2 separate regions of the Homo sapiens genome follow, and region 2 is linked to region 1. The links come from fine-mapping of genetic effects on gene expression. Tissue or cell type: thyroid. Region 1 holds a variant in brackets; the other region holds the start of a gene. All regions are shown on one strand. Distances are between the middles of the regions.

What was found. PIP is the estimated chance that this variant, and not a neighbour inherited with it, causes the effect.
Region 2: WNT4 starts here. The variant in region 1 is fine-mapped to the expression of WNT4 in thyroid (GTEx, PIP above 0.99).

Annotation. Positions count from the first base shown.
Region 1 is chr1:22,180,565-22,190,604 of GRCh38, forward strand. No RefSeq gene overlaps it. Among named protein-coding and RNA genes, the nearest start is that of WNT4, 42 kb to the left of the region's middle. The variant A/G (reference allele first, on the strand shown) is at 5,954.
Region 2 is chr1:22,138,149-22,147,168 of GRCh38, forward strand. WNT4 (Wnt family member 4) reads right to left here and starts at 4,949. Exons shown (of 5, transcript NM_030761.5): 1 at 4,698-4,949. The coding sequence starts at 4,774. It overlaps LOC105376845 (a long non-coding RNA gene), which reads left to right and starts at 2,805. Exons shown (of 5, transcript XR_947050.1): 1 at 2,805-2,857. RefSeq lists an enhancer at 409-1,363 and silencers at 4,417-4,476, 5,039-5,368.

The DNA.
Region 1 (10,040 bases):
AAAAATTAGCCGGGCGTGGTGGCGGGCACCTGTAGTCCCAGCTACTTGGGAGGCTGAGGCAGGAGAATCGCTTGAACCTGGGAGGCGGAGGTTGCAGTAAGCCGAGATCACGCCACTGCAGTCTAGCCTGGGTGACAGAGCGAGACTCTGTTTCACACACACACACAGAAAAAAAAAAAAAGAAGAAGGAAGAAAATTCTGACACATGTCGCATGATGGATGAACCCTAAAGACACTGTCTGTGCTGGGTGAAATAAGCCAGACGCAAAAAGGCAAATACTGTATGATTCCACTTACACAAGGTACCTAGAGTAGTCAAATTCATAGAGATGAAGCGGAATGGTATTACCAGGGGTTGCGGAGTTCGCATTTAATTTGTACAGAGTTTCAGCTGTGAAAACGTTCTGGAGGTGGGTGCTGTGATGGTTGCACAATGGGAATGTACTTGCTGCTGCAGGAACTGTACACTTAAAAAGGTTAAAATGGTAAATTTTATTTTACAACAATTAAAACAAGATCTAGCAATTTTACTTTTTTTTTTTTTTCCTTGTGATGGAGTCTCACTCACTCTGTTGCCCGGGCTGGAGTGCAATGGCACGATCTCAGCTCACTACAACCTCCGCCTCCGGGGTTTGGGTGATTGTTAATGCCTCAGCTCCTGAGTAGCTGGGACTACAGGTGCCCGCCACCATGCCCAGCTAATTAGCTAATTTTTGTATTTTTAGTAGAGACGGGGTTTTTTCATGTTGGCCTGGCTGGTCTAGAACTCCTTTTTTTTTTTTTTTTTTTTTTTGAGAAGGATTCTCACTCTGTTGCCCAGGCTGGAGTGCAGTGGTGTGATCTCGACTCACTGCAACATCTGCCTCCTGGGTTCAAGCAATTCTTCTGCCTCAACCTCCCAAGTAGCTGGGATTACAGGTGCCCACCATCATGCCCAGCTAATTTTGTATTTTTTTTTTTTTTTTTTTTTTTTTAGTAGAGACAGGGTTTCATCATGTTGGCCAGGCTGGTCTCAACTCCTGACCTCAGGTGATCTGCCTGCCTTGGCCTCCCAAAATGCTGGGATTACGGTGATGAACAACCGTGCCTGGCTGCAATTTTACTTTCTAAATGATCTCAAATTCATTCCTTTTCTCTTTCATAGTAGTTGACTCTCAGTGGGACCAATGGAGAACCTTCTTTCTGGGTTTCCTGCCTCCAATTTCACTCTCACCATCCATAGCCTAACTCCCTCTTCATCAGAGTGCTTTTCTAAACCTCAAATCTGTTCGTGTCATTTCTTTCCATGGAACCCTCCATGGTTCCCCATGGCCTATGGCATTAATTCTAAGCCTCTTAGCCTGGCATTCAAGACCCTCCCTGATCTGCCCCCTGCCTGTCTTCCCAGCCACCTCCCTCTTTTTGGCTCAGTCATTCCTCCAGTGCTCTGGGCTGTTTCACACCCCTGTGCCTTTCTCTCCACCTACATGCTCATCTCTGCCTTCTCTCCTGACACCGCTACATGACATCTCTGCCTTCTCTCCTGTGTCCAGCCCATTCATCCTCTAAGTCTCTAGAAGTCCAAAGACTTCTCTGTGATGCTCTCACAAAGCTGTCTTTTCTCTCCTTACGCTGTTTCTTTCCAGCTGTATCTGTTACTGCACACATCTGGCTGTTCTGCAATGATTTGCTTGCATGGCTGTCTCTGGGAACTCCTTCAACTTCTCTCCTTTTCTTTCAGGAAGTCCTTCCTGCCTTCTTCCAGCCTACAATGACATCCGCCTCCTCTGAGCTCACAATCTCTTGCAACCCATCGGAAGCACCATGTTAGCACTTGATTGTTCCCCTGTCTTATCTTCAATTCTCTCATGAAGATTAGTCTTGGCTCTCGGACGAGCTCATAAAAAGCCTCCTTGGTTAGATTCACCTGAACTGGGGAGGCGGAGGTTGCAGTAAACTGAGATCATGCCATGGCACTCCAGCCTGGGTGACAAGATTGAAACTCCGTCTAAAAAAAAAAAAAGCTCCTTTGTTGTAAGGACTGTGGCCTCAGTTCTGTTCCCTGGAGGAAGGGCAGGAGCGGACACTCAGTGGGCAAATTTGTGCCAGGCACTCTCGAGCCTGCTGTGTCCTGTCGTTCATCTGACAACTCTGAAGTGAGCGTTGTCATTTCCATGTTACGTTTGAGGAAGCTGCAGCTAAGAGGGTTAAGGGACTGGGATCACAAAGCATCACAGTAGAAGAGTGAGGGCTCGAACCCAGGCCAGTCAGACTCCCAAACTTGTGCTCTGCTCCGGGCCAAAGCTGAGCCCCAGAAAGACGTGCTGGGTTGGACTGGGCTGAATGGCCCCCGCCCAGTGCATGTCTGTGCACATGTGGCAGTGTTTGATTTTTCCAGTAAACTCGAGCACATGCAAGTTGGAGGCGGCATCAAGGGAAAACAGCTCATGTTGGTCCTGGCTCCGGGTCTGGGGAAGCATCCAGGGTGGTGGGGGCGGGGCAGGGCGCTGGGCGGCAGCAGGGGCAGTGGGCAGGTCTCTGTGGTCATCCCAGGAAGCCCTCAGCTGTGACCTGTGACGGCTGCCCAGGGGTACGGCCCTCCTTATTGGGAGTAACTCCTCACATTTTCCGGGACGGTGTTTGAGGGTGTGCGTTTGGCAGAAAGGATTAGAGTTACCATTCACCAGTTGCTAAGATCGTGGGCAACTCCTGTACCCTCTCTGGTTCTCATTTTATTTTCGACATCTACAGAATGGGTATTTATTTATTTATTTATTTTGTGAAAAACAGAGACAGAGTCTTGCTCTGTCACCCAGGCTGAAGTGCAGTGGCACTACCATAGCTCACTGCAGCATTGACCTTTCTACCTGGGAGGCTACCTGGGAGGAGCCATGTGATCTCTTCAAGGATACTCCTCCCTGAGGCTCTGGGGGGCTCAAGCCATCCTCCTCCCATGTAACCTTCCATGTAGCTGGGATCTCAGGCACGTGCCATCCTGCTGGCTAATTTTTTGATTTTTTTTTTTTTTTTTTGTAGAGATGAGGGCTCACTTGGTTCCCCAGGCTGGTCTTGAACTCCTAGACTCAAGCAGTCCTCCTCCCTCTGCCTCCCAAAATGCTGGGATTACAGGCATGAGCCACCTGACCTGGCCCCAAATGGGCATTTAACTAGTTTCCCGTCTCTTGGATTTCTGTGGGCAGATCCTTTGCAAGGATAGCTGTGACAGGATAGCTGATGAAAAGTCCTGTGTCCTTTTGAGAGGCTTGGTCATCTACCCTGGGAGCTTCATAACATAGAGGTGGAGAAGAATGGCCAGTCCCAATTTACAGATAGACGGGACCCCTGACCATAAATGTATACAATCATGAGATGCCAATTAAAAATAGTATTAATTAAAAAGAATGCAAAGAAAAAGGAAAGTGGAGAGGTATAATAAGAAGGGACCTTCTGTGGCTGGGCACGGTGGCTCCTGTAATACCAACACTTTGGGAGGCCAAGGCTGGTGGATCACCTGAGGTCAGGAGTTCAAGACCAGCCTGGCCAACATAGTGAAACCTCATCTCTACTAAAAATACAAAAATTAGCTGGGTGTGGTGGCGTATACCTGTAATCCCAACTACTTAGGAGGCTGAGGCAGAATTGCTTGAACCTGGGAGGCACAGGTTGCAGTGAGCTGAGATTGTGTCACTGCATTCCAGCCTGGGCTACAGAGCGAGACTCCATCTCAAAAATAAAGGGACCTTCTGAGGTTGAACTGAAATCACAAATACCTCTCTGTATGAATCTGTGATTTATCTATATATATGTGTACATATAAACACACAGATGGACAGGTGTCAGAATAGATACAGAAGCATGTCTATGTATATGTCTCTTTAGCAGCTTGTAGAGAAGAAGCTGGGACTTAGTGACATTAGACTGAGGTTTCCAGACTAAGTCCAGAAGCCCTTCTGTTTGACATTACCCAATAGATGGAAGCCAGGATATAAGATGCTAAATAATTGTAATTTAGGGACAAGGGGTGGAGAGTTTAATGGTAGGGAAGTGAGAAGTGGAGAAAGATTATCACATTATTACTAGTTGAGAGGACCAGAGAGGGAAGGTCAGTGGCCCACAGTCACACAGTGCAGGCTGGTGGCAAAACAAAAGCCAGAACTCAGCTTAAAAAAAAAAAAAAAAGAAAGAAAGAAAGAAGAAAGAAAGAAAATAGAAGAAGCCCCAACTCTCACTATTGATTGTATCTACTTTGTGCTAGGTCGCTGTGTGCTAAGGTGACTCTTCCCAGCCACCTGAAGGGATAAGTACCTTCATCATCATTTTCAGATGTGGAAGCGGAAGCTCAGCGAGGTTCCAGGGTGCACGCTTGGTTAGTGTGAGGCCACCATTTGCACCTAAGTCTGACGCCAAAGCTGGTGTTCTCAGCCAACCAGCCCGCCCCCACACTGGCCCAGACACTTGTGAGTTTGTGGAAAGTCACATATGGACCAGGACAGCAGCTACTTTGAGGCCCCAGAGAGCCAGTCAGGGCAGATGGCCAGGCTGGTCGCTGGGTGCCAGTTGTCAGGCCCTCAGCCGTGTGCAGCCAGGTGTGCAAAGCCTCCATCAACAGGCGGTGCGTTGCCTGGGGAGCTGGCTCACCACCCAGACCTTGGTTTCCCCAAATGTAGACGTTGATTGATCCCAAGGTGCTTCCCAACCCCACATTCCTGGCCTCTCTCCCCGAGGGGGCTCAGGGTTGAGGTTTGGTTGGGGGAGAGGCCCGGGCCCCTCCCTTTCCCCCAAGGTGTGAGCTACCCAGGGAACATGGGGCCGGCTGTCATGGCAACCCTGTGTTGCGAAATGACGTAATCGGAGTTCCAAACGTGTGAAATCAAATACAACATCCGCAAACACAGCCTGGGGGTCGGCATGGCAACCGCAGGGCACCGGGACAGGCAGGCACTCTCCGCCCTGAGCAGCCAGCCTGGCTCAGCCACCTGGGTGGGCAATGAGGGCACACCGTCCCCTCTCCATGCAGGCCCCACCTCCTCCCTCCACTGGGGCCCTCTCCTTTTCTCTCCTCTCCTCCTTCTTCCTCTTCTCCTTGCTTCTCCGGGAAGCAGTGTGCCAGGTGGTTAAGGAAGTCAGCTCTAGCACCCCAGACAGACCAGGTTTCACATCCTGCCACCTACCAGTGGTGAGGTTTTTGGCAATCCGCTTTACCTCTTGAACACTATTCACCTCACCTGAAAAATGGACGTAATAATAAAACTCACCATATAGTTTTGAAGGGGGGCTGATGACGTGAACATAGGCACCTAGTACTGGTGTGTATTAGATGGGAGCCATTATCCTGCCTTTTCTCATCTTTCTTCCCTGCTGTGGTTCCTTTCCTTGCCTACCACTCCCAGGGCACCTGCAGGCACCAGAAGTGACAGTGGCTTGCAGCCTGGATCCCCAGGTGATCGGTCAGGCCCTGTAGGGCTTTGCCATGTGATCTCATAGGTGGTCCTCTTCTCTATAAAATAGGGGCATGACCCACAGGCCACTGGCATCAGCAACACCTGAGTGCCGGGTAGAAAGTGCAGATTCCTGGACTCCTGCCCCCTTATACTTGATTCAGTGGGTCTAGGGTGGGGCCCAGGACACAAGTTCTCCGGGTGAACCTAACCAGACACTCCAGTGTGAGAATCCCTGAACCAGGTGTTTCCTGTGGCTCATATGGCTGACTCTGATGGGCCTCCAAGACCCAAATTCCTGGCTCTGACTGATTACCTTCCAGGCTCTTTTTATTTTGCGACGCTGTGGCCACCAGGCCAGGGCAGGCTTTCCCTGGTTTCTATGTCTGTCCCATTCGTTCTTTTTTTTGGAGACAAGGTCTTGTTCTGTCACCCAGGCTTGGAGTGCAGTGGGGTAATCATGGCTCACTGCAGCTTCAACTTCCCCAGCTCAAGTGATTCTCCCGCCTCAGCCTTCTGAGTAGCTGGGACTACAG[A/G]CACGCTCCACCACACTTGGCTAATTTTTTTCTCTTTTTGAGATGGAGTCTTGCTCTGTTGCCCAGGCTGGAGTGCAGGGGTGCATCTTGGCTCACTGCACCCTCCCCCTCCCGGGTTCAAGTGATTCTCCTGTCCCAGCCACCTGAGTAGCTGGGACTACAGGCATGTGCCACCACGCCCAGTTACATTTTTTTGTATTTTTAGTAGAGATGGAGTTTCACCATGTTGGCCAGGCTGGTCTCCAACTCTTGACCTCAAGTGATCAACCTGCCCTTGGCTTCCCAAAGTTCTGGGATTACAGGCGTGAACCACCATGCCTGGCCTCACCTGGCTAATTTTTATTTATTTATTTTTTTGTAGAGTCGGGGTTCTCGTTATGTTGCCCAGGCTAGTCTCAAACTCCTGGGCTCAGGTGATCTTCCCATCTTGGCCTCCCAAAGTGCTGGGATCACAGGTGTGAGCCACTGTGCCTGGCTGTCTCATTCATTCAATCAACAAATGTTTCTCATGCCAGGCCCTGGGCCACATTCACCTTTCCCACACCAGTGAGGAACAGATGCTGCCCTGTGTGTTTGGGGTGGGGGGTGGCGGGGCTGAGAAGGTAGAGACAAGTCTGTGACTCAGTTTTTCATGTGTAAAATGGGGATAATGCTTTGATAATGAGTGTCCTGCTACTCTTGAGGTGGCATAGGGCTCTGGCGAGAGGATGACAAGGACACATTCTCTGGGGACCTGTGGCCTGCCAGGCACTGTGCTAGATGCTTTGTATAGGTAACGCTGGATGCTCCCAGTAACTTTTCAGGTGGGGGCTATTTCCCTTCATTTTACGCTTGGGAAAATGAGGCTCAGCAGGTGACTTGACTCACCTGAGATCACTCACCACATACCCAGTTTAGGGTTTAAATCCTTCCCTGGCTCACATTGCCCTTCTAGCCACTGTTCTTCCTCTGCCTCTCCTTTCCCTCTCCCCTCCCCTTCCTCCAGCCCCTTCTCTTCCACTCCATTCTCCTTCCTCTTCCTTGTCTATTTTTCATCAAAAGGTCTAGAGTTTTCCGCACTCACTCTTTCCATGTCTGCACTTGCCAGTCGCCCCTTAGTCCTGAGGTCCGTCTCCCCATCCCGCATCCTTCCACGGTGACCAGGACCTCTGTGAGCAGAACCCAGTGGTTCTGACCTCTTAGTAGCCTTGATGCTGGGGGTTGCCCCTCCTCCTCACAGTCCGCTTTTCTCCTAGGCTTTACTTTCCTCCACCTCTCCTGGGTTTTCCTTCTTTTTTTTTTTTTTGAGACGGAGTCTTGCTCCATCACCCAGGCTGGAGTGCAGTGGTGCGATCTCGGCTCACTGCAACTTCCGCCTCCCAGGTTCCAGTGATTCTTCTGCCTCAGCCTCCTGAGTAGCTGGGACTACAGGCATGCGCCACCATGCCCGACTAATTTTTGTATTTTTAGTAGAGACGGGGTTTCGCCGTGTTGGCCAGGATAGTCTTGAACTCCTGACCTCAAGTGATCTCCCCACCTCAGCCTCCTAAAGTGCTGGGATTACAGGCATGAGCCACCATGCCCGGCCTCTCCTGGGTTTTCTTAATCTTTCCATTTAAAGGATTTTTAAAAACCCGAACATTTGTTGAGCACCTGCCTTGTGTCCAGGCTGTGCTAAGGGGGGATATGCGGTGGCCAGACCTTCTGGATCCTTGTCTTCCTGTGTGTGGCCTCAGGAGCTGTGCCTGCTCTGCGCCTCCACTCTCTGCTCTGGCGCTCACTCTCCTCCTTCCCTTCCCTGCTGCCTATGCCTCTCCCCACATGCTCTTTCTTGACAGTCTTGTCTACCATGGCCTCAGCTACCAGCTACCGCCTGAGGACTCCCCAGCCTTCAGTCCAGAACATTCTGGACAGAACATTATTCTGTAATGACCTTCAGAGTCTATCAGGATCCCTCTGCCTGCCCCTAACCCTGGACTCCAGGCACCCCCTCCAGTTCTTCCTTCACAAATTGCCACAGTGCTTTCTCTAAGTCACACTGGTCCACTGCGACTGCTCAGTGCTACGAGGTGGAATCCTCATTCTTTCACCCACTCGACTCCTATTCATCCTGTAAGACTCAGTCCAGGTATCACCTCCTCCAGCAGGTCCTCCAGGATTGACCCAGTGACTCTGCTCCATGTGTCCCCAGCACAGGAGCTCCCCTCCAGCATGGTGGGATAGAGCCCAGGGCCTGGCACAGAGTGAGAATGGCCCCAGTGAATGTGGACTGGAGACCCAGTGGCTGTAAGAGCTCACAAACAGTCTAAATCTCTTGTTTTACCCACAGGGACAGGAGGTCTAAGGTCTCAAATGGATTTACCAGCAAAGCCAAGACTCTAGCCCAAGTGCCTGGATCCCATTTCAGAGTCTGTCCCATCAGAGCACACAGCCAGGAAGGTGAGACAGCAGGTATCGTGGAGAGAGGCCACTGATTGGTCAGTGTCAGGCATGCTGAGTTATCTGTGGCCCTGTCCTATTCTGAGCATATTTTCCTCTGCACAGATAAAGTCAGATCTTTGCACTTGTCCAGTGAGGTGTTCCTCACGGTAAATGGATGACAATTGACAAAGTGCCTACTGTGCGCCCACCTTGGCCTGGGGCTTTCGTGGGTGTTATCTTGCTTCCATTGTCTTGGGGAAGGAGCCAGGAGGGATGTGGAGGACAGAGGACTTCCTTAAAGGTGGGATCATGGCACAGCACCTTGGCTTCTTCCTTGAGTGCTGGGCGCTCGGCAGGTGCTTGCCAAGGTGTGCGTTGCACAGAGGATTTGCTGGCTGGGTCCCATGAGCTTGCAGAGCTGAGCTTGGCTGGAGAGTAATTGGAATACCAAAAATGCTCGACCTCGGACTGCAGCTTCCGTATCACCAGGGCCAGCTGGGCTGTGGTCCCAGCTTCCAACTCAGAGACCTGGGTTCTTCCACTGAGTCCCAACTGGTTGAGCACTTCTGGGATGAGTTCTGGTGCAGCGTGGTGCTCCAGTATCCAGCATGGGCCCTGACACTCAGGAGGCCCTCGTATATGGCTATTGAGAGATTGAGCTACCTGTGCCATCTTGGAGGTGGCCATGTCCCTCAGGCCTCAGTCTCCTGGTAACAAAAAGGGATCCTTTCTCGTTCCAGAGGACAGGACTTAAAACCCTTAGGGGTGAGCGCTCCTTGAGCACTTACTGTATGCCATGCCCTGTTCTAACACTTCACATGTGCAAACTCGTTTAAGCCTCATGACTATTCTTGGTACTATTCAGGCCCCATTTCACAGATGAGGAAATCGAGACTCAGAGAGGTTAGGTAGCTCTCCAAGGTCCTGCAGCTGGTGAGTGGCAGAGTCAGGATTTGAACCCAGACCATCTGGCTGCATGGTTCATGCTCCTAACCACTACATCTATGGACTTTTTCATTGGCTGTCATCCTGGTCCAGAGCTGTTGCAATTTAAGAGGGAGCCACTGTTGTTCTTATTATTACTAAAGGACAAACCCACAGGCATGGCTGGAGACAGAACCTTGTTTCTGGGACTTAATTTGAGGAAGGGTGCAAAAAGGGGGTGTGGGGAATATCCCAGTTTGACCAAGGATTTGCAAAGGACAATCCACGTAAGGCATGAATCTAATCCTGTCTTGTCCTTGAATTGGCACTGGGCTCAACTCCTTTTCTTCATTCCTCTGTGGGAGTGGTGGGAGCCAACTCACCTTCCAGGGTCACAGAGACCTGACCTCCCAAGGAGGCTGGTCCCTGCTCAGACCAGGCAGCCTAGGAGCCCCTCAGCTGCCCCATCAGGACTCATCGCACCTTCTTCCCCAGCCTTGGCAGCTGGCCCTGGGACATGAAGGGGACAGGAGCACCAGAATGGGGAAGGGTCAAGGCTGAGCCTTGCTCCCGTCAGTCTCCAACCTGCTTGTTTGAGCAGGAGACTTGGGCATCTGGGCAGATGGAGGACGGGCCCGTTCTCATTCAGCAGAGTCTCCTGTAGGGCTCTCCTGGTGTTTAGTAGGTGCTGAGTCCTGGGCGATAGCAGAGTCTAGTGGGCCGGGGCACAGGTTGGGGATGGGGGATGGGATCAGGGAGGCAG
Region 2 (9,020 bases), 43 kb before region 1:
CGGTTCTATAGGCAGGGGATGAAAGCTGTAAAATCTGGACATGGGAGAGCAGTTCCAGTCCTGCTTCTGATTTGCAGGATGACCTTGGGGAAGTCATTGCACGTCTGGGCCTCTGAAGTGGGGCTGAAAGTAATCTACACTCCTGTCCTCTGAAAGTGGTTGTGGTGAGGCATGGAGGGGATGGTGTGTGGTTCAAATGGGTAATGGTTGTGAAAGATCTTTGCCAACCATTGATTCCTGGGGGAATGATTTTGCCCGCCCCCCAGGGGACATTTGGCAAAGTCTGCAGACATTTTGTCCTTTCGCTTGGGGGGATGTTACTGGCTATCTAGCCGGTAAAGGTCAGGTATGCTGCTAAGTATCCCGCAATGCACAGAAGAGACCCAGACAGAAGACTCATCCAGTCCCAAATACCAGTGATACGGAGGCTGAGAAATCCTGCTGTAAACTGTGAAGTACTGTGGGGGTGTTTGTGATTGTAATTCACTGCCCAGAGCCACGGAGGAGCTCTAAGGAGACGGATTTTTGACTATTTAGAGGGGAGAGAGGGATCTTTTAAAGCTGGGAATCAAGGGCACACTTCCTGGAGGAGGTGGGCCACATCTTTACCTGTGTGGTTGGCACTGCACATCTGGGCTGGCCGTGCCCCATCCCTGCCCCAGGGAGTTGTGCCCAGAGTGTTGGGCTTCACTCCACCCAAGGCCAAGGGAGATATAAACTGTCCCCCGGCCCCCGGGCAAGCAGGCTCAGGGGAGCTTGGCCGGAAGTCGCACACCAGTGGGGACTCAAAGCCAATGGAAAGCATGATGCGTCCTTCACTGCCCCCAGGGCACGGAAAGGTGCTCCCAGCAGCAACTCCTCTGCCTGGCAAGATTGGCTTGTGAGCCAGGCTAGGTCTTCCTGACTCTGGGAGGCTCCTGCGGGGGCCCTTGTTGAGCAAGGGGGTTGCAGCCTAGGATCCTACCTGTGTTAAATCAGTGGATCTGGGTGGGACAGCCTGGGATAAACAGGGCTTGGGAGCAGCAGCCTGAAGGCCCGTTTTCTCCACCACCCCTATCAATAGGGACGCAGCCCTGCAGCTCCCTGACAGCAGCCCTTGCTTCCGGCAGCTGCCAGGGCTGCCATTTCCATCAGCGTGCCTGGCCCAGTGCCAGCTTGCCACACGCATGGGCTCGCTCTTTCTTCCCAACCACCATTGTGCACCATTTGCATCAGTGGGCTCCATTTTACAGATGAGAAACCCGAGGCTCGGAGAGGTTAATAACCTGTCCAAGGTCACTCAGCTGGGCAGGGCAGAGCTCGGTTGGATCTCAAAGACCCACTTCTTGGCCATGCCGCCGGCCTGCCTCTGAGTGCAGCGTGGTCCCCCTCCCCTCACCCGTGGGATTCTGCTAGAACCCCGCTACCCCACTACTTTCCTCAGAAATCCACAGTCCTGAAACCTTAGCTTATTTATTCCCTAACCCTCCCCAGCACTTCCATTTGGGGTTCAGAACGATCTGCTGAGGACTGTGGCCCCAAGGGAGGAAGGGGACACCCAATATGTGGCCCAGAGCTGGGACTGGAACCCAGGTATCCTGACTCCCGGTACAGCCTCAGTGCAGGGAAGAGGGGACATTAGAAACATTTCTGAGCTCAGGTCCGTGGCAGGGCAGCCTCCTTAAGGGCAGAGTCCCAGCCTTCCCCCAGGGACTCTTCATCCATCGGGCCCTCCCTCAGTGGTGGGAGCCGTCACAAGCTGTCAGCGGGCTCCTCCGGGTGCCAGACGAGAGTCTAATCAACAGCTCCCAGCTTCTCTGGGCCTGCCCAGGCCTCAGGCTGCCCTCCCAGCTCCAGGCTCCATCCTGCCCAACAGCTGCACGCGGCGGGACACCTGGCCTCCCCACCAGGCCACCTGCCCTTCTGAGACAACAGATAGTCCTGGCTCTCGCCACTGGCCAGCAGACCCACCCTGGACTCCAGGGTATTGGGAGGCGAGCGGAACCTAGACCTTGCTCCTTGGCAGGTGCTGTCAGCTATCCTCTCGGGGCCAGGCCTCCTCATACCTCACACTTGAAAAGACACAGTGCCAGCCATCATGCCTGCATGGACACCTGCCTCCCCGAAGCTTTTCCTTCTAGAGGCAGCTTTTCAGTCGGACACCTCTGGCATTTACCAGCTGGGTGACTTGGGCAGTTACCTCTGCGATCCCCAATCTTCTCATCTGTAACGGGATTGAAACGTTGTTGGGATTTAGATCATGCTGTGGGAGTCATCATAATAATTATTATTGTCATGATCATACAGTCTTCAGACCAAGTCCCCCTCTGTGCCTGCTCGGGCTCACACTCAGCTCTTTCCTCTGACAGCCATAGAGCATGTGCCCTGTTCCACCCAGTCGTGGTTTTATCATGTCTTTCTACCTAGACTCCAGGCTTGTGGGAGGCCAGGCTGTGACATCCATTTCCCCCAGAGCTGCCATTCCTGGCCAGCTGATTGTTCGACAGAGGTTGATAAATATTGGACCAACCTTGGTATGTGCCCAGTGTCTTCTCCTTCATAGCCTCTCTGGTTTGGGAGGGTCCTGGGAAGCCTCTTGTTCCTCTTGCCTTGGGTGGAGCAGAGAGACCCTTGGCTTGAAGCCGGGGGTGGAGCAGGAGTGAGCTGGGTCATCCAGAGACCTGCTTCGTGGCAACCTGAACCATCACCGTTGCAGAGAACAGGTTTGCCAACCTCTCTTCTCCTAGGCTGCCCCTCCTCACCCCACCCCCAACAGCACAGGCAGGAGAACTGAGTTGTTGGAATTCCCCACAGTTTGCATGATCCAAAGCCGAGGCTGCCTTCCTGGCTGGGATTCTGGGGGTGGACATGGGTGAAGGTGAGTGGTGATGCCACCGGGCCATGCTGGCTCCACTTTGGGACAGCTTCAGGGAAGGGGGTATAGGGTCACTGCCTGGGAGTCAGAACACCTGGGTTCAGTTCTCAGCTCTGAGTTTGGGCAAGTAGCTTCCACTCCCTAGGCCTCAGTTTCCTCATCTGAGTCAAAGATGAGATGTTCCTGAAGGACTTTCCACTGCAGATGTCGCTGTCTTCCATGTAGGCCTGGGCCAGACGCTTGGACTGCCACTTTTTTTTCTTTGTTTTTTGTTTGTTTGTTTGTTTTTTGTGGCTTTGGCGGTGCTGGGCAGGTGAGACACAGTTCTTGCTCCTTCTGATGCTCAGATCTGTTTTGGAGGCCCCCGCTCTGAACCCATGCATTCAAGAACCAGCTCCAGGGACACCCAGGGTCCTCCAAGTCCAAATCAGCTCCCTCCCCAGCTCTGTGACCCAGGCTCCATTCAGGGGGTGGCCTGCAGGGGGGCAGTGGGAGAAGGTGGTGGTGCCTTGCTTTCTGTACACTCTGCCACTGCTCCTGAAGTGTTAATCAAATTAAGGCTCCAAGAAAAACAAAAGCTCCGCAGCCACTTCGGGCTGCCTTGGAGTCGTTTGCTCTCGGAACAGCTGGGAGAATTCCACATCACCTCCGTCCCCCAAGCCCTGGGTGGCTCTGACCCCAACGAACACACTCCTTCCAGCCTGGAGGGCTCTGGCTGGCCACAATGACCTCATAGCAACAGCCATTGGACACTCGGGGCAATTTCATGGGAGATATTTGTTCTTTGGTCTTGATGCAGAGAGAATTTTTTCCTCTCTCCCTGTCTCCATGGAAACCCCAGCTACACTGTTGGCGATCCCCCTTCCCACCCCATGCTTTTCAGATCAATATTGGAGCTTGGCTCCCCACTGGCTGCCCACAGCGGATGGTGGCAGAGCTCTGGGCAGGAGGAACTGGGGCCAGGGTTAAGCGCGGGGCATGGGGAACTGTCCCTGAGCGGGGATGAAAGGAGCGCGGGTCCGCTTGCTCCCTGTCCACCCACTCACTGGAGCTCATCCCTTTAGTCTCCCTCCCTGCAGCAAACCTTCCGCCCCTACCCAGGGAGCGCCCTGAGCGCAGATCCAGTCAAGGAGAAACAGACAGGTCACCAGCGGTTACCACCCCTTCCTCCTTAGGCTAGACACGGGGAGCTGGGGGGCCGTTGTCTTCTTTAAGGTCTGGACGGAGTTTCTTCCTGCCCCGGGGAAAAACCAAGGCCCGGCCAGCGCCAGCGCCAGCCCCGGGCCCTGGGAGACCAGGCGTCCTGGTCCCTTCCTTCTGTCTCCGGCTCCCGCCCCCCAAGCAGAAACAGGTCCCTGCACGCCTCCAGCCCAGCCCGCAGCGCGGCGCAGCTCGGCGCAGCTCGGCGCTGGGAGCTCGCTCCGGACTTCTCGGGATTAACCTGCTATTATGTCCCGGAGCCCTTCCCTGCAATGGGCTTCCTCAGCGACCTGTCAGCCCGGCTGGACTGCAACCCGCGTCCGGCGCCCCTCCCGGGCCACCGCCCCGCGCTCGCACCCCTGGCGCCCTCGAGAGCCCCGAGCCGCCTACCGGTGCGGACGCCGCCACAGCCACCCCTGACGCCTCTGGGCAGGGAGCCGGACCCGGGCAGGAGGGGACCCCGGGTGTGCAGAGGGACGTTCGGGCCGTGGCGGCGGCAGCGGAGCGAGCGAGCCTCCGGTCCCGCGGCCGAGACACCTGCCGGGCTGCCCCGCGCCCGCTGCCCCGCGCCGCCTGGCACCGGCCGCTGCCCCCGGGGCCTGCCCCGCCCCGCCCCGCCCCGCTCGGCCCCGGCCAGACTTACAGCCAGTTGCTCGCGGCGGCTGAGAAGACGGCGAAGACGAGGAGGCGCAGCGAACGCAGGCACGAGCGGGGACTCATGGTGCCGCCGCGGGCGCCCGGCCCGGGGCAGCGGCTGCGGCCGCGGGGGGCCTCCCGTCGGGGCTGCAGGTGGGCGCCCGCGGGCGGGCCGGGGCGCGCGCGGCGGGGCTCTGCCTCCGTGTGCCTGCCGGCAGCCTGCCCGCTGCTGCGCCCGCTGCCCGGCGCGGACCAGACTGTCAGCGCCGCCCCAGAGCCGGGATGCGGCGGCGGCGGCGGCGGCGGCGGCGGCGGAGGCGGGCGGGCGGGCGGGCGGCCGGGGGGGCGGGCCGGGGGCGGGCCGAGGATGGGGTTACCTGGGCGGGCCCAGCGGCCCGGGACACCCCCCCGGGGGCGGGCCGGAGCGGCGGCGGCTGCCGCCTTAGCCCGCGGGACTGGGCTGCTCCCGGGGCCTCCCCGGCTGGGCGCTCCGGAGGACTTGGGGCCCGAGCCCGCTCCAGGCACGCCTGGCTGCGCGCCGCCGAGCCCGGCCCGGCTAGAGGCGCGGCGACCCAGCTGCCCGGCCGCCGCCCGGGCCTAGGGGACAGGCGGGCACAGCTCCCCCAACCCGCCGCTGCGGGCACTGCAGCGCGGCCCTCGCTGTCCCCCTACCCCCCCCACCGCCCCCCGCCGGCGCCTGGAGCCCAGACCCCGGTCCGACCGCGGCGGACCCACCGGAGCGCGGCTACCACTCGCGCGCACCCAGGCGCTGGCGCTCCGGGTGCCTGGGGCTGCACATCGGGGCGCTGGATGTCTCCCGACCGCCCCCCGCCCGGCCCCTCCCTGCCTCCTGGCCCCCGCGTCCTGCGGCCCAGCCCCTCCCTGGCGCTCACCTCCCTACAGCCTTCCGGGAGCTGGACGGGGCCTCCCCAGCTTTGGGCAGCTTGGGACAGTGGCCCGAGACTGTGGGAATCCGAAACCTCGCTTCTGGCTAGCCACAAGGTCTGGGCGCGCCCCAGGCAGCAGGGTCTTGACTCTGAGCCTCCGTTTTCTCATCCGGGAAGTGGGCTTAAGACGCTGTGATTGGGAGGACAGGAGGAGTTTAGGGAAGCTCTCTTGGCTCACTCACCAAGTCTTACTTTGCATTTGGTTTTCTATGTGCTTGTTCGATTTATCCTCCCATACTAGGCAGATTCAGCCTCTTGTTTGTTTTGGGCACAGGGCGGTGCCTGCCATGTTTGTGGAAGGAATAAATGAATGGAATGGAATGGGCTGCAACAGCCTGTGCTTGGCTAGTCCAGAGAGCTCAATTCCACATCACTGTAACCCCTAAGAATTGTCTGCCCAAGTCCACGCCACACCCTCTCAGGTCACTGATCTGATTCTGTGTGCTACTCATCCTCCAGGCTGCATCCCCCAGCTGCTCACAGGTAGAGGGACCTCTTATCTAAACAGTAAAACTAAGGCCCGGAAAGGGAGGCACCTGTCCCACCTCCCTAGGGGTTGGGAACAGAGGCAAGGACCAGGTCTATGCCCTCACCCCCTGATCTTAGTTCTTCACTGATTTTGGAGTATGAAGTTTGCTCCCACAGAGGCCATCATGTTTGGGTGCTGGGATGGTGCCCTGGGGTCCCCTGGGCTCAGAACAGAGGAAGGGCTCAGTAAACATTTGGTATTGGGACTGGGTGGAACGTGGCAGGGATTTGTGGGGCTGGGCAAGAGTATAGATGGAGGTTCACATACCATATGTCCAAATATTTGCAGGCTATAAATCAAGCTAACAAAATGCAAAATAAATTATGTTCTATTCTTCTATCTTGACAAATACACTTTCCTAACAAGGCAGAAAGCTGGCTTTGAGTGTGGCATTCTCATACTCCTCAGACCTTGCCCTGGAGCTGGTGGCACAGGGAGAGGGGGCCCCTAGTGCCTGGCCTGGGCCCCTGCCCCCTACCTTTTCCTACCTCTGCCTCTGTCCTGTCCTTCGAGAGTCTTGTGCACATTCATGAACATCTCAGCCTGCACATGCAAGCTCAGCCCCTTGGTAGCCCCTCAGGCTTAGGGCTGGGCACGCCAGTGGTGTACTCTGTCCTCGGGCTGGATCTGCGGAAGAGACCCACGCAGGTCCTGGCAGTGGGCTAAGGGCCATCTCTGCAGGGAACCCCAGGGGCCTGGGCACCCAGAGTATGCTCTAGTGGAGGTGCCACAAGTTCCAGGTGGGCATGTCCCCTTGTCCCATGGTCTTCCCTCCTTGTGATGAGAGGTTAGCTGGAGGAGGGCCAGACTGGGGGGGTCCCCAGGGCAGGGGCCACTCTCACCTGTGTTTAAGGGTGGTACTGAAGTGCTGACCTATTTTGAACCAGCATATTCACTTCCTGGAGACTCAGTATGGTATGGTGGAAAATAATAATAACAACGATAATAATTTAGATGGCAACAGGTAATTATGTTAGGATGGCCATATAATTTTCTTCCAAACCAGGATGTTTTCAAGAGTGACGGGGGGCTCTAACTGGAAGATTTGCCAGGCTACCAGGCATAGACCAAGACTGTGCCAGGCCACCTAGGATGCACTGTGCCACTCAAATGTTGTGCCCTGGTATGTCAGGCACTGTTCTTAGTGCTTTACACGCTTTGACTCATTCAATCGTTGCAACAAATCTAGGAAGTACGTACTGTTATCACCCTCATTTTACAGATGAAGACACCAGGTTACTTGCTTAAGGAAAGTGGTGGACCTGGGACTCCAGAGCCACATCCCCGGCTCCCATACCATCCTGAGCCTGGGACTCAGGTGTTTGGGCTTAAGCCCCTGTCCCAAAGCACATGACACTTGACCTTTGGGAAGCTGCAGGACCTTCAGTTTCTGTATCCATCAGGTGGGAACAATGTTACCTGGCTTGCCTTCTCCTGGGGTGCTGGGAGATGCATATGAGTGGGTGTGTGTGAGCCCCACGAGCAGGATCAAGCTGAGCCCAGGAGGGAGAGAACTGGAGCCATCAGAAAGTGTCTCCCTGAGCTGTGCTGTGATAATGGAGAGGAGGAGCCCTTTGCTCTGAGTCAGTGGAAATTCTTTTTTTTTTTTTTTTTTTTTTTTTTGAGACGGAGTCTCCCTCTGTCGCCCAGGCTGGAGTGCAGTGGTGTGATCTCGGCTCACTGCAAGCTCCGCCTCCCGGGTTCAACTGATTCTCCTGCCTCAGCCTCCTGAGTAGCTGGGACTACAGGTGCGTGCCACCATGCCAAGCTAATTTTTGTATTTTTTTAGTAGAGACGGGGTTTCACCATGTTGGCCAGGATGGTCTCGATCTCTTGACCTCGTGATCCACCTGCCTCGGCCTCCCAAAGTGCTAGGATTACAGGCATGAGCCACCTTGCCTGGCCGGAAATTCTTAATGAGAAAGTCTCTTGGAGGAAATGCTCTTCTAACTTTCAAGAACAGCCCAACTGTGAAGATATCAATGCAAATTAACTAAAAAGTCAAATTGTCAATAGCTCTTTAATGTCAGTAGTAAGAGTGCATCTGGTACTTTCTATATATACCAGCCACTGTTCCAAGTGCTTTGCCTGTTCGCATTAACTCATGGAATCTTGGCCACGGCTCTAGGAAGTAGATACTGTTCTTAGTTCCATTTACAGGAGGGGAAGCCCATGTGTGGCTCTAAAACTGCTATAAGACATATTAACAACCCTATTACATAGGTTAAGATTATTGTTATTCCCATTTTACATATGGAGAAACTGAGGCACAGAGAGTTCAAGTGGATTGCCTAAAGTCACCCAGGTAGCAGCACAGCCAGGGTTTGGAAGCAGGTGGTCTGGGCACTGAGCGAGCACAAAGCTGTTCAATGGACAAAAGTCTTCCACATGTCAGAATTAATGTCTGTGTTCAGAAGGGGAAGCTCATGGGGTTTCTGTAGACTCTTCCTGGGGGTTACTTTAAACCCTCAAAATCCAAGGCAGAGCCCTCCACACCATATCCCTCTCTGTGCCCAGCACCATGAGTACCTCACACATAATAGAATGGGAACATATCTTTCTTGAAGGGACCAATTCCTTAACTTCCTGAGCGGCCCATTTTTGGAATTAGTTCTCCCTCCTTAATAACTATGAAAATTCACTGAGGAAGGGAAACCCAGTCAAGTTTTTAATCAGAAAGAATCACATTCAGTGTGTCTAAGTTATCACCAGCTCTTAGGGAGTGGGCCCAAAGCAACGTGGTTGGATGTTTCTCCAGCTCAGTCCTGGAAGCACCTGGTAACGGAGTGTCAGGTCAGCTGGTGACCAGGATTTCTAGTCCAATTTCCCAGATTTGTGAGGTGAAGAAACTGGG